Homo sapiens: one gene and its partners. The protein of the gene in region 1 purifies or fractionates together with the protein of each later gene. This does not show direct contact. Each region holds a gene or a part of one and is shown in the gene's direction. Other genes may lie near its edges.

Evidence for each region. The genes of interacting proteins can lie anywhere in the genome.
Region 2: the proteins of TPR (region 1) and PTPN11 purify together in Homo sapiens (affinity purification with mass spectrometry; 2 studies listed by BioGRID, with this or other methods). This does not show direct contact.
Region 3: the proteins of TPR (region 1) and NUP93 purify together in Homo sapiens (affinity purification with western blotting; 2 studies listed by BioGRID, with this or other methods). This does not show direct contact.
Region 4: the proteins of TPR (region 1) and NUP107 fractionate together in Homo sapiens (co-fractionation; 4 studies listed by BioGRID and IntAct, with this or other methods). This does not show direct contact.

Annotation. Positions count from the first base shown.
Region 1 is NC_000001.11:186,330,254-186,333,753, reverse strand, and holds part of TPR (nucleoprotein TPR), read left to right. Parts: intron 1-359; coding exon 360-632; intron 633-1,410; coding exon 1,411-1,559; intron 1,560-2,172; coding exon 2,173-2,256; intron 2,257-3,500.
Region 2 is NC_000012.12:112,425,447-112,428,946, forward strand, and holds part of PTPN11 (tyrosine-protein phosphatase non-receptor type 11), read left to right. Parts: intron 1-3,500. UniProt on the Homo sapiens protein: Acts downstream of various receptor and cytoplasmic protein tyrosine kinases to participate in the signal transduction from the cell surface to the nucleus. Positively regulates MAPK signal transduction pathway. Dephosphorylates GAB1, ARHGAP35 and EGFR.
Region 3 is NC_000016.10:56,834,629-56,838,128, forward strand, and holds part of NUP93 (nuclear pore complex protein Nup93), read left to right. Parts: intron 1-105; coding exon 106-150; intron 151-1,972; coding exon 1,973-2,089; intron 2,090-2,979; coding exon 2,980-3,098; intron 3,099-3,500. UniProt on the Homo sapiens protein: Plays a role in the nuclear pore complex (NPC) assembly and/or maintenance. May anchor nucleoporins, but not NUP153 and TPR, to the NPC. During renal development, regulates podocyte migration and proliferation through SMAD4 signaling.
Region 4 is NC_000012.12:68,738,978-68,742,477, forward strand, and holds part of NUP107 (nuclear pore complex protein Nup107), read left to right. Parts: intron 1-2,835; coding exon 2,836-3,003; intron 3,004-3,377; coding exon 3,378-3,485; 3' UTR 3,486-3,500. UniProt on the Homo sapiens protein: Plays a role in the nuclear pore complex (NPC) assembly and/or maintenance. Required for the assembly of peripheral proteins into the NPC. May anchor NUP62 to the NPC. Involved in nephrogenesis.

The DNA of each region.
Region 1 (3,500 bases):
TATATTACTAATCAAATTTACTATCTGTTATATCAATTAAAAACTAAATGATGCTTAATGAAAAATTCTAATTTTACTTTGAGCTTAATTTCATTAATTTTATTCAACAGTAATTTAAATGAATAGATGCAAAATCAGTTACAGATATTTATTTAATTCAGGCAACATTTTATTGCATGCTACCATATCAATTACATAGGGAATATAAAAATGCATAATACATTACCTTTACCTACAATGTATTTGTCTACCAAGTGCCAAATCTGTGTGAAAGGTGACATGTACCACAGAATAGGAAGGATAATTTCAGCTTTGATAAAAGTAGAAGGCTTATATTCAGCATTATAATTATTTTTCAGCTATGCAGTCAGAAGGGCCTGTGGAACATGTTCCAGTTTTTGGAAGCACAAGTGGATCCGTTCGTTCTACTAGTCCTAATGTCCAGCCTTCTATCTCTCAACCTATTTTAACTGTTCAGCAACAAACACAGGCTACAGCTTTTGTGCAACCCACTCAACAGAGTCATCCTCAGATTGAGCCTGCCAATCAAGAGTTATCTTCAAACATAGTAGAGGTTGTTCAGAGTTCACCAGTTGAGCGGCCTTCTACTTCCACAGCAGTATTTGGCACAGGTAAAATTAATTTTAAAATGAAGTCAGAGTAGACCTATGCATTTATAAGATCTTGAGTGTATCTTGAGTATATATATCTTGAGTATTCTTTGTACAAATGAAGTTAGAATAGACCTACGCAATTATAATATCTTGGATATAATACGTATCACAAGTATTCTTTGTGCATACATGCTTTCTACCAGGAATTAGAATGAATGAATATATTACTAACATTTTATTTCATGTTTACTACTGAATATGACTATTTTAAATCAGTTGTTTGTCATTAAGATGATTCTCCCCCTCCAGTTATTTTTTTTACTGGTCTTACATATTAATGCAAAACATTGTATATAATTTAACGGAAGTCCTGAGGACTAAAAGACACCTAAGATAAGACTATATACTGATTTACATACAGTGTACATTTTTTCTTATTCAAGGAGTCCTGAGTTTTATAGAAGGTCCCATGTAAACTTTGTAGATAACAACATAGTAATACAATCTCAGTGAACCAGATATATTGTAAAAATTGGCTGGCTTTATTAAGCAAAGCTTGGGTTGGTATAAAAACATTGACTCAGAGCATAAGTTGCTCTTTGTTTACCCATAGCTTAGCAGAAACAAATTATGTTGATGGACATTGATCTAGGAGTTGATTGATTGTATTTTAGTAATCTGTACAATTAAATGTTTACTGTGTTCTCCTTTAGTTAAGTGACCATATTGGGTAAACTATCTTTATCTAAATTGAGTTATTATCATGCTCTAATTCAAGATTTATATAATTTCAAAGTTTCGGCTACCCCCAGTTCTTCTTTGCCAAAGCGTACACGTGAAGAGGAAGAGGATAGCACCATAGAAGCATCAGACCAAGTCTCTGATGATACAGTGGAAATGCCTCTTCCAAAGAAGTTGAAAAGTGTCACACCTGTAGGAACTGAGGTGCGTAAAGTTCTTTCTGTGTATTTTAACTTTTACCAGTAGAGTTAAGGTACTCTTTTCAGCTACAGCCTAAAGAAAATTAACCTTTTGGGGCCAAAATATATTATCTGGAAAACACTTTTATTGAACTTTCTACAAAGATTCCACTGACAACCCAGGTATTATTACCAACAGTGTTTTATATTCTTGCATATCTTTAATTGCATTTGTTTCTATTTCAATAAAAAAGCTCAGTCATAAAAACATAAGTTGAATTTCATCTCGAAGTTTCTAAGTCTCATGGACATAAACTGTTACCTGCTATCTTTTTCTAAGATTAGCCAAAATTATATTCCTTTTTGTGGTTAAGATTAAATTGTAATGAAGCAGGTTTCAAATCAAACATTAAGGCTACTAAATTAATTGTATTAGCATGTATTAATGTTCATAAACCTTACTTTGTGTATACTGAGGAGGAATGTGATTATAATTTTTAAATAAAATTTTTTTATTTTTCTATAGTTTCATAAAATATAGATTTGAAGGGTTTTTTCAAATGAGAGAACTAACAAAAACAGGTAACCCTTCATCTACTACACTGATATGGTTAATATATTAGTGTATTATGATACAGGAAGAAGTTATGGCAGAAGAAAGTACTGATGGAGAGGTAGAGACTCAGGTATACAACCAGGATTCTCAAGATTCCATTGGAGAAGTAAGTAAAAACATACCTAAAGTACCACACCGTTGCTTTTCGTGAATGAAATTAGCTTTGACAAATTGAAACATTATTTGGTCTTTTTTTTTTTAGCTTGTTCTTATTATATGTAATGAAATACTACTAGAATTAATCATTGCAGAGTCTGCTTTCTTTTACTCCTATGAGTATAGTGTACTGCCTTCTAAACTTATATTAAAGAAATGTTTTTGTTCATATATAGCACAGATTTCCAGATTTTTTAGAGTTGTGAGCCAAGATTTTTCCCTATTTTAATTACATGAAATACAAGAGTGCTGGTTGCATCTTGAGTTAATTTATAGTGCCCCATTTGCTGGTTCTCTCTTACTCCCCTGTATTATTTCCCTTACAGAATTAAAGTAATCCATAAAAGGAAATGCATTTATATACCTCTTCATTTTTTGATCTCTCATTGAGGTTCCCCTAGCAGTTTTACTAGCGGAGAGAATATAGACCCTGAAGTTACAAAGCATGAGGTGTCATTCCTAGCTCCACCACTAGGAAGCTTTGTGACTGTAAGCATATCATTAATTCCCTGCATTGTCTCACTTGTCAAAAAATATAATTTTTAGGATTGTAAAATACCTAAAGTAGTACCTGCCACATATTAGGCACTCAGAATATTATTACTTTCCTTTCTTCCTTCTGTCCCACAAAATGAGAATTCATATTGTCATCAAGAAGACCCCCAGGGTGGCTAAATAGTGTTTAATAGAAAGGAGAGCTTTATTAGTGATATCATTTTGCTCATGAGGAAGAAATAGTCTCCAGCGTGGACCAAAGGTGTTCTGTCTTCACACAGGGCAGGGACAGGTGTGGTTTTATGCCTCACAGGGTCCTTATTACACAATAGAGTCATGCATATTCAGCAGGTTTTGGGGAAACGCTATACATATTTATGAGGGGAACTGAGCATATAAACAGTAGGTAAATATATATAATATACATCCCATGTTCACTTTGGGGCAGCGTTTTAGCATGAAAATGAGCTGGAATTTGGCTCTTTACGTGAAGAGTGAACAAAAGGTGAACTACAGGACACAAAGACAGTTTGTGCGCAGCCTCTTTAAGCAGGTTGAAACTAGCTTAAGGTGTCTGCAGTTCCTTGCCAGTGCTCTCTACAGTCAGAGTTGTAGTGGTCTGGATTGTAAATCAGAGATAGGAGTCTGATAACTTGCCCGATAGTTCCAGTTAGAGGAGTTTAGCAAAGGCTTATATTT
Region 2 (3,500 bases), on another chromosome or scaffold:
AACAAACTATAAACTTATTCCCCAAGAACAAATATAATAATTTTTCTGGAGTAGCAGGTAAGAAAGATATAAATTTATATGTATACAAGAAACTGAAATTAGACTTTATACATTTAAAGGTTACAAGTGCAGTTTTATTACATGAATGTATTATCCAGCATTGAAGTCTGGGCTTTTAGTGTAACCAGCACCTGAATAACATACATTGTACCCATTAAGTAATTTCTCATCCCTCAAACCCCTCCCACCCTGAAATTAGACTTTGGATCCCTAGTTTAAATTCCACCCCTCTCTTTTTTTGAGACAAGGTCTCACTCTGTCACCCAGGCTGGAGGGCAATGTTGCAATGATAGCTTACTGTAGCCTCAACCTCCTGGGCTCAAGGGATACACCCTCCTCAGCCTCCTGAGTAGCTGGAACTGCAGGCGTGCACCACCACATTCAGCTAATTTTTTGATTTTTTTATAGAGATGAGGTCGGAACTCCTGGGCTCAAGCGATTCTCCCCAAGTGCTGGGGTTACACACATGGGCCACTGCCCCCAGCCTAAACCTCCTTTCTCAGTATAGCAGCCTTGAGATGAAGTTCCTGAAATTACTGGCCAGCTTGACTGTTTCCCCACATCACTGGAGGAGGGGGATGCATAGATAAAACAAAATATTCAGCATCATTGTATTTTCTTTTTGTTTCATCAGCATCTTTTTTTAAAACTCACTTGACATAAGTCCCTAGCCTCAAAGAGTAAAGCCTTTGCAGAATCTGCATTCAGATTTCGGGTGTGATTTCCTGACAGATAGTTCAGGTTTGTAAACTCTTTTTTTTTTCTTTGAGACAGAGTTTCACTCTTGTAGCGCAGGCTGGAGTGCAGTGGCACCATCTTGCCTCACTGCAACTTCTGCCCCCTTGATTCACGCGATTCTCCTGCCTCAGCCTCCTGAGTAGCTGGGATTACAGGCATGCGCCACCACACCTGGGTAATTTTTGTATTTTTAGTAGAGATGGGGTTTCACCATGTTGGCCAGGCTGGTTTTGAACTCCTGACTTCAGGTGATCTACCTGCCTCAGCCTCCCAAAGTGATGGGATTACAGGTGTGAGCCACCGCAGCCGGCCAAAACTTTGTTTTTTTTCCTCTTTTTGTTGCTGAGAAATGTAAACTCTTACAGACACAAATTATGTCTCCCATTTTTTAAAACCCACTCAACACAGGGGTCATGTGTAATAGGCCCTGGAGCTTATTTTAGACATTGATTTGAGGCTCTTTTCCCCAAGTGCTGGTTTGTGTGTGTGTGTATGTGTGTGTAAGTCTTTCTATGAGATGAGTGGTACCTACCTGGGCTGTGTGATCTTTTTTATTTTATTTATTTTATTTTTGTAGATACGAGGTCTCACTATGTTGCTCAGGCTGGTCTTGAACTCTGGGGCTCAACCTATCCTCCCTCCTTGGCCTCCTAGAGTGCTGAGATTACAGGTGTGAGCCACTGCACCTGGCCAGCGATCCTTAATAAATATAGATAATGGCCGGGCGTGGTGGCTCACACCTATAATACCAGTACTTTGAGGGGCCGAGGCTGGCAGGTCACCTGAGCTGAGGAGTTTGAGACCAGCCTGGGTAACGTGGGTGAAACCCTGTCTCTACAGAAAATAGAAAAATTAGCCAGGTGTGGTGGTGCATGCCTGTAGTCACAGCTACTTGGGAGGTTGAGACAGGAGAATTGCTTGAACCTGGAAGGTGGAGGTTGCAGTGAGCCGAGATCGTGTCTTTGAACTCCAGCCTGGGTGACAGAGTGAGACCTTGTCTCAAAAAAAAATATAGATATAGGCTGGGCGTGGTGGCTCACACCTGTAATCCCAGCACTTTGGGAGGCCGAGGCGGGTGGATCAGGAGGTCAGGAGATCGAGACCATCCTAGCTAACATGGTGAAACCCTGTCTCTACTAAAAATACAAACAATTAGCCAGGCCTGGTGGTGGGTGCCTGTAGTCCCAGCTACTCGGGAGGCTGAGGCAGGAGAATGGCGTGAACCCGGGAGGTGGAGGTTGCAGTGAGCCGAGACTGTGCCACTGCCCTCCAGCCTGGGCGACAGAGCGAGACTCTGTCTCAAAAAAAAAAAATCTATATATCTATATATCTATATCTATATAGATATAGATATAGATAATGCCAGATGATGGCTGGTTAGAAGGGATTGTCAGGGGCTGGCAGGTTTTGCAGGTGTTAGAATGAGCAAGATGAGGAGAAGGATGCTTACTTCCCTCTCCTTGTAACTCTCTACCCCCTCCCCTCAGTGTTTTTTTATTTTTATTTTTATTTATTTATTTTTTTTGAGACAAGGTCTTGCTCTGTCACCCACACTGGATTGCAGTGATGCAATCATAGCTCATTGAAGCCCAAACTCCTGGGCTCAAGTGATCCTCTTGCCTCAGCCTCCCAAGTAACTGGGACCACAGGTGCGTACAACTATGCCCAGTTAAGTTTTTCATTTTTTATACAGACGGGGTCTTGCTATGCTGTCCAGGCTGGACTTGCACTTCTGGCTTCAAGTGATTCTCTTGCCTCAGTTTCCCAAAGTGCTGGCATTATGGGCATAAGCCACTGTGCCTAGCCCATCAGTGTCTTTTTATCCTTTACTCCTATCAAAATTCATTCACTCAGCAGCCATTGATCAAGTGCCTACTATATACATGTTGAGGACTGGAAATTTATTTGTCTCTTCTCATCTTATCTGGACCCTCTGTGTTAATTGTAATTAACTGTAATCATTCTGTATTAATTGTAATAAACTTGTTGATAAACTCAAATGAGGCCATACCGTTTTGCCACTTCCCCTCCTTCCAGGTTATATGGATGTACTTACATTGCAGGTTTCATTTGTTGGTTCAGTTTTTAAACTAAGCCCTATTGTGTCAAATTATGCTAGGTGTGAGATGGGGAGTTCAAGCTGTGTGTTGTCTTTTTTTTTTTTTTTTTTTTTGCCTCACTTACTAATATACAAGCGCTTATAACCTTTGAGGCTGGCCCTATACATTAAGATTTTTATTAATTCCACTGTTCTTTATCTTCTCTTACTAAGTTCTCAGGGTCGAATGAACTCTAACTGCTCCTTGCTAGTGATAAGCAAGTTGCAAATTACAGAATTGTCAGTGATTGAATACACGTATTAAACCTGTAACTGGGAAGCATTTTTGGTAATTATGAATACTTTTGGAAAAAAAAAAGCTATGGAAGGAAAGTTTAAAATCTACGAAAGCTCAAGTAGATGGTCATGGAATAGCTATTTCAATTTCTAACTATATATTACTTATTTATTTATTTATTTTTGAGACGGAGTTTAGCTCTTGTTGCCCAGGCTGGAGTGTAATGGCGTGATCTCAGCTCACTGCAACCTCCACCTCCCGGGTTCAAGCTATTCTCCTGCCTCAGCCTCCCGAGTAGCTGGGATTATAGACATGTGCCACCACGCCAGGCTAATTTTGTATTTTTAGTAGAGACGGGGTTTCTCC
Region 3 (3,500 bases), on another chromosome or scaffold:
TTATCCCATTCATCCCATTTGATTCCCCTCTTTTTTCTCTGAAGACTTATGGAATATGTTTATATCTTTGTCCAATAATTTGAGTAAACTTTTTTCCTTCCACAGTTCGATATGATTCTTGGGAAACTAGAGAATGACGGAAGTAGAAAGGTGAGTTAAATGCATCCTTAGAGAAATGTTCGTTAGCCATTGGGGATTTATAAATATCAAAAAATACACTTAGATTTTAAGATTCAAGGTACTAAAGATGCAAATCTGAACAGAGTTGCTTAATTTAAAAAATGGAATGAAAATTATGGGCCCAAATGATGACCTTGGTTTTACACACACTTATATCTCCTTAAAATATGTTAATTTGTGATTACATAGCTTTTTTATTATGTTCAGAATATTCATTTGTTCATGCCTGTCATTTTTTGAGCTGAGAATGCTATTATACATTTCTGCCATTCTTGGCTCAGAAAACATGCAAGGAAAAGAAATTGATTACTGCACCCATTCTCCCAAGATGGGAAAGTTAGACATGCACTTGACCTCCTTCAAAATGCAGTTTCCAAGGGCTTTGAACTCCACAGTGACCCTGGAAATACTTCTGGAAGCTTGAGGGATTTCAGGACTCACTATGCCCATTGGTTGTCATGGCAGGAGGGTCAGAGATCCTGTTGTCAGAGACCAGTCATGACCCTGAATCTCCCTGTGGCCCTTGGAAAGTCACTTGTCCCTCAGGGGCTGAGTTTTCTCGTTTGTAAAAATGAGTGATTTGGACCCAGCAATCTGTAGATGAGCTCACACTGCTCACACCATCTACCTCAGAAGAAAGGCAAGTGACAGTGCTGATGACAGTGGCCTTGCTTATTGGGCAGTGACAATCAACAGGCATTGTGCTGAGTGCTTTGCATAGTTTCTTCTTTAACAGGCTGCACTGGGGCCAGGAGGCTCCTACTGTATGTGAGTTGACAGAGCTAGAAACATAGATAAGACCTTATCCTCTGCTACCTCCCAAGTGGCAGGGCAAGTCACCTCAACCTGGTCCAGCCACCTTGACCTGGTCTAGCCCTGAGAGTCCAGCGCTAGTGGAGAAGCAGAATGGCCAGGCAGAGATGTTATGCACTTGCCTTCATTCTCCCAGGGTGCCTAAGGCCTCTCTCATGCTCTCCTGACCATTTAGTTGCTGTTGAGTGGTGATGGTGATTTTTTTTTAAGAAATGTCCTGTTACCAGCCGGGCGCGGTGGCTCACGCCTGTAATCCCAGCACTTTGGGAGGCCGAGGCGGGTGGATCATGAGGTCAGGAGATCGAGACCATCCTGGCTAACACGGTGAAACCCTGTCTCTATTAAAAATACAAAAAAATTAGCCAGGCGTGGTGGTGGGTACCTGTAGTCCCAGGTGCTCGGGAGGCTGAGGCAGGAGAATGGTGTGAACCTGGGAGGCAGAGCTTGCAGTGAGCCGAGATTGCGCCACTGCACTCCAGCCTGGGAGACAGAGCAAGACTCTGTCTCAAAAAAAAAAAAAAAGAAATGTCCTGTTACCACTTGCTGTGTGTTTTTTCAGCACTGAGTTCCTTTTGCCATCTGTCTTAGAAAGCAAATCCAAAATTTTTCAGATATTTTTTCTAAGCCTCCTGATTTTTCTCTCTAGTTCCTACTTATCAGCAAATTTAAAATCATTGATTTCACTGACTCTCTGGGTCATTTTGGAAAATTAGAAAGCACAGATGTCTTATTGCTGACTCCTCTGTGCTTCTAGTAAGTCTGCCCTTTCATGTGTAGTTTCCTTGGTCTCTTTTATAGTTTTAATAGGACTTTATATCTTTAAGAAAGCCAGAGTCTGGCTGATGAAATATATGCGTTGCCCAGGGCAAGCAATTCCACTTGAAGTATTTTTTGGATCCTAATTGCTTCTCTGTGTTTAAAATAATAGCTCTGTGCACCCGTCTCTCTCTTCCTCCCCCTCCATAATTTGTCTTGTCAGCCTGGAGTCATAGATAAGTTTACTAGTGACACAAAGCCTATTATCAACAAAGTTGCTTCTGTGGCAGAAAATAAAGGACTGTTTGAAGAGGCAGCAAAGCTGTATGACCTTGCCAAGGTAAAGTGTGCCCACTTCCTTCTTTTGCACTTCACAGGTCTGCTGGCCTTTTGGCATTAAATGTGCAGCCACTTGGACAGTGTCATTGTTGTAGCACCCTCCCTGCAGAGGCATTTGCTCTAGTGCTTAGACAGTTAATGGTCCAGTCAGGACAGAATTCCCATTTTACAGCATTATTTCTGCCCATAAGATTTTTCTGACCAAACAACATATTGAAAGGATGTCCTGCAGGCATTGAACTGTTGTCTCACTTGGCAGCAGAATTAGCATCCATCACATTTCGATGGTGAAGCCACTGTTGAAAATTACATTATGCTGACCCTGGCAACCACAGACACACTGGGGAACAGTGGTGTTAGAAAATAAGACCACATCAGTGTGCAGGAAGGAGTGAAAGAAAATAAGACCTTAGCTGGGCGTTTTGAGAGGACTAGAATACATGTTTCTACCGAAGAACAAATGATGACTAAGAACATATGATAACTGCTAAGGATTCTATGACCTAAACAAGATTACATTCTCTCCTTTATCAACTGAGAAAAGTAGACAAAAAAACAGCTATAGGCCAAGTGCAGGGGCTCACGCCTGTAATCCCAGCACTTTGGGAGGCCAAGGCAGGCGCATCACTTGAGGCCAGGAGTTCGAGACTAGCCTGGCCAACATGGCAAAACCCCGTCTCTACTAAAAATATAAAAATTAGTCAGGCATAGTGGTGCATGCCTGTAATCCCAGCTGCTCAGGAGGCTGAGGCACGAGAATTGCTTGAACTTGGGAGGCGGTAAAAAATGTCACCCCAGAAAGTTCTCTTTGGTGGGTAGGGGGCATTATATAGTTGTTCCTTTTATTGATTACTTTATTGATTGCTTCCTTAATTTTAAAAACTTGAGCAGAATGCTGACAAGGTACTGGAGCTGATGAACAAACTGCTGAGCCCTGTCGTCCCCCAGATCAGTGCCCCGCAATCCAACAAGGAGAGGCTGAAGAACATGGCACTCTCCATTGCCGAACGGTAAGCCAGGAGCTGGCTCCATGGGACCCTGAGGGTGCCACTGCCAGTGCCAGGCCACCTATGCCCACCCAAATGCATGTTCAGCTTTACTAGGTAACAGCAGACAGCTTTCCAAAGTGGTTCTACTAACTCACCATGCCACCAGCACTGTGTGAGTTCCTTTGTCCCCGCATCAGAACTAGTACTTGGTACTATCAAACTTAACATTTTTGCCAAAGAAATGGGTATGAAAGGGCATCTCAGTATTTTAATCATGCACATAAAGCTTAATTTTAAGCATTATGCTCGCCTAAATACTGTTGTATACTTTCATCAGCCCTCTCAAAGGCATTCAAGACCAAAGCTAGTGATGGTTGGATGGGGGAGATTCTTAGAGGTGTCGTGGCCAGTGTTTCAGACTAC
Region 4 (3,500 bases), on another chromosome or scaffold:
AAACTAACCCCCTAATCTTGTGTCCTACTGCTCTCCCATCACTATATCCTGGCATTCTGGGCCTCTTCATTGGTTCCCCTCTGCCTAGAATGCTCCTTCGCCAAGATAGGTGCATGGATGACTTTGTACTTCTTTCAGCAGCTGCTCAAATGTCATCTCTTTCAAGAACCTCTCCCCAACCCAACCACCCTATTTAAAATAGCATGTATGCATGTGTATACACACACACACACCTGTCCCTTTTAATCTCCATATCCTACATTAGTTTTCTTCATAGCACTTAGCACAATCTGATATAAAACATATTAATTTATTTGCTTTTTGTATGTCTACCCTCATTAGAATATAACCTTCATGAAGGGAGTAACCTTGTTTTCTTTATTTCTTTGACTCTGGCACTTAAAATAATGCTGAGCACATGGGAGGCTTTCAGTGGTACTTAGTAAATGAATGATACTGCATTACTGAGGTGAATGTACTGTCTTCAGATTAGGAATAGCTGTAATATCAGTTCCAATCAACTCTTGCTATCAACACATATTAGGTAATGAGTTTTTCTCACATGTAAGGCACTACATGGGGGGGCGCGGTGGCTCACGCCTGTAATCCCAGCACTTTGGGAGGCTGAGGTGGGCAGATCACGAGGTCAGGAGATCGAGACCATCCTGGCTAACACAGTAAAACCCCATCTCTACTAAAAATACAAAAAATTAGCCGGGTGTGGTGGCGGGCACCTGTAGTCCCAGCTACTCGGGAGGCTGAGGCAGGAGAATCGCGTGAACCCGGCAGGCGGAGCTTGCAGTGAGCTGAGATCGCGCCACTGCACTCCAGCCTGGGCGACAGAGCGAGACTCCGTCTCAAAAAAAAAAAAAAAAGTGGAAATATCCCTAGTGGAAATAATCCGTCTGTTTTACATATTTACCGGCTATTTCAAAGCTTTTGTTCATTCAGATGAGAAAAATGTCTTCAGTTGTAGCAGAGCTGTTTATTTGCTTTTCCTTGTAGCAATTTGCTGGGTCTGTCAGCCATTACCCTGGATAGTTGCTGGCAGCCCGCCCGCTAGTATCGGAATTCATTATAATTAGCAGAAGAGATTGTCTGCAGCACACTCTGATATTATGGCAGCAAAAGGATTTAGTAAAAGCAAGTCTGGGTCCATCCTGTGAGATAAGAAAGTAACCTGCTGCTTTTCGGGCAACAAGGAGTCAGAAGCCAGGGGCACCCGGCCTCTTTAACATAGACAGAAAGACTACATTGGAGCACAAATGGAAAGGTCCAGAAAGAAGCAGTTCTCTTATTCTTACTGGGTTCTAGGTTGGGATCACTAATATGAATTACAAGTAAAACCTTGAAGCATTTTAAATCCACCTCTGAAGGTAGCAAGTATCTATTTGAGAAAAGAAATAAAGGTGCTTCCCTTGTAAAGAAGCACTTTAATATTTGCTTTTATGTATTTATGCTTCAAACAAGACCAAAATATTGATAGTAATTTTTCCTATGTTTGGAAACCTGACCTAGATTAGCCCAAATTAGTACAATTACTCCTTGGTATAATTACCAGATTATACTTTGTTGTTGATTAACCCCTCCACTTACATGTCCATTTGAAAAATGTTTTAGCAATTTAATATAGCCTCTCACATGAAGATACTTTTAGGTATTCCATTAGGCTTTTCAAAGGAGCAGTTATTATTTTAGCTTGTCCTGTTTTTTTTTTCTACACTATTAGTGCTATTGATTTCCTTCCTATTTTTAAGATTATTTCAGAAATTGTAGTGTGTAATTTCTGTAATCCCAGCACTTTGGGAGGCTGAGGCAGGAGGATCACTTGAGCCCAAGAGTTCGATACTAGCTTGGGCAACATAGGGAGACCTCATCTCTACAAATAATAAAATTATTTTTTTTTTTAAATAGAAAAATTAGCCGGGCATGGTGGCACATGCCTGTGGTTCTTAGCTACTTGGGAGGCTGAGGTAGGAGGATTGCTTGAGCCCGGAGATCAAGGCTTCAGAGAGCCATGATTGTACCACTGCATTCCAGACTGGGCGACAGAGTGAGATGCTGTCTCAGAAAAGAAGAAAAAGGTTAAAAAAGAAAAGAAAAAAAAAAGAAATTATGTGGTTGGTTACTTTCTAATTATTTTAATTTTCAAATTTTTTGTAAGTAAATGTAGTGGGCATAAGAGGTTTACTCTTTTTTCTGTACTTTTACTGTTCACATCGATTTTAAGAAAGATCCATGTATGTATAAAGGAATGCCAATTGTTTTTTCTGCTTGTTTTCCTTATATATCTGTTCTGACTCATTAATTGTATTATTCAAATCTATAGGTTCTGTTTTTCTGTTTTTAAAAATTATATAAAGAAATTATAAATTCCATTTTCCATGTGTATAAGCAAAGTAGTCTGCAATGAAGTTGACCCTCCCTGTGTGCCCCTCCCCACATCGTCTTTTTCCCAGCAACAGTCATTGCTGTCAGTCTGTTGTGTCCTCTCAGGCCTCCTTAGAGCTATCTTTATTTATATGTATAAACATCCAAAGGAGTGGTGATTGTTTTCTGTTCTGATTTTTGCTCTAATGATATTCAGTTTCCAACTCATTCTTTTTATGCATGTTTTTATTCAGGACATAGTAAGTTTATTAGAAATACAAATGCAGAAGCATTTTATTTTCACTGTCATACCTCTCTGTAGTCTACGTTGTTCATCTTCATACTTTTTTGCTGTTAAATCTTGTCTACCAATTACATTCTGGGTTTGATTCAGTACCTGGCTTTTCTTTTTGTAAGGATCTTTAGCTTAAATTGTTAAAATGATTTATTGATGTCTGTTTGTAGGATGCCAAAGAAGACCATGAAAGAACACATCAAATGGTCTTACTGAGAAAGCTTTGTCTGCCAATGTTGTGTTTTCTGCTTCATACGATATTGCACAGTACTGGTCAGTATCAGGAATGCCTACAGTTAGCAGATATGGTATCCTCTGAGCGCCACAAACTGTACCTGGTAAGTTCTAGAGCCTTGTAGTTTTAAATTTTAATGATTTGATATGCTCTGTAGTAATATTAATTTTGTGAAGATGTGTTTACATTTGTAATTGCTCTTGGATTTTCTTAAAGTAATAGTCCAGTTTTAATGTTTTAATGTTTGTACTTTTTTCCCAAAATGTGTGTATATTTGTAAGCAGTTAGAAATATATAGACTGACTCTGAGAATTCACCTTGAAATTCCTGAACCACTCTAATTTACTAGGCTCTGGCTACATAAATCTTAAAGAGGCATTTCTTCTTATATGAAGCTAATCAGATCGATTAGGTAACTAAGTTCATACTTGTCTACTTGTCTTTGTTCTCATTCTTATTTCTCTTTTTAAAAATCAGGTATTTTCTAAGGAAGAGCTAAGGAAGTTGCTGCAGAAGCTCAGAGAGTCCTCTCTAATGCTCCTAGACCAGGGACTTGACCCATTAGGGTATGAAATTCAGTTATAGTTTAATCTTTGTAAT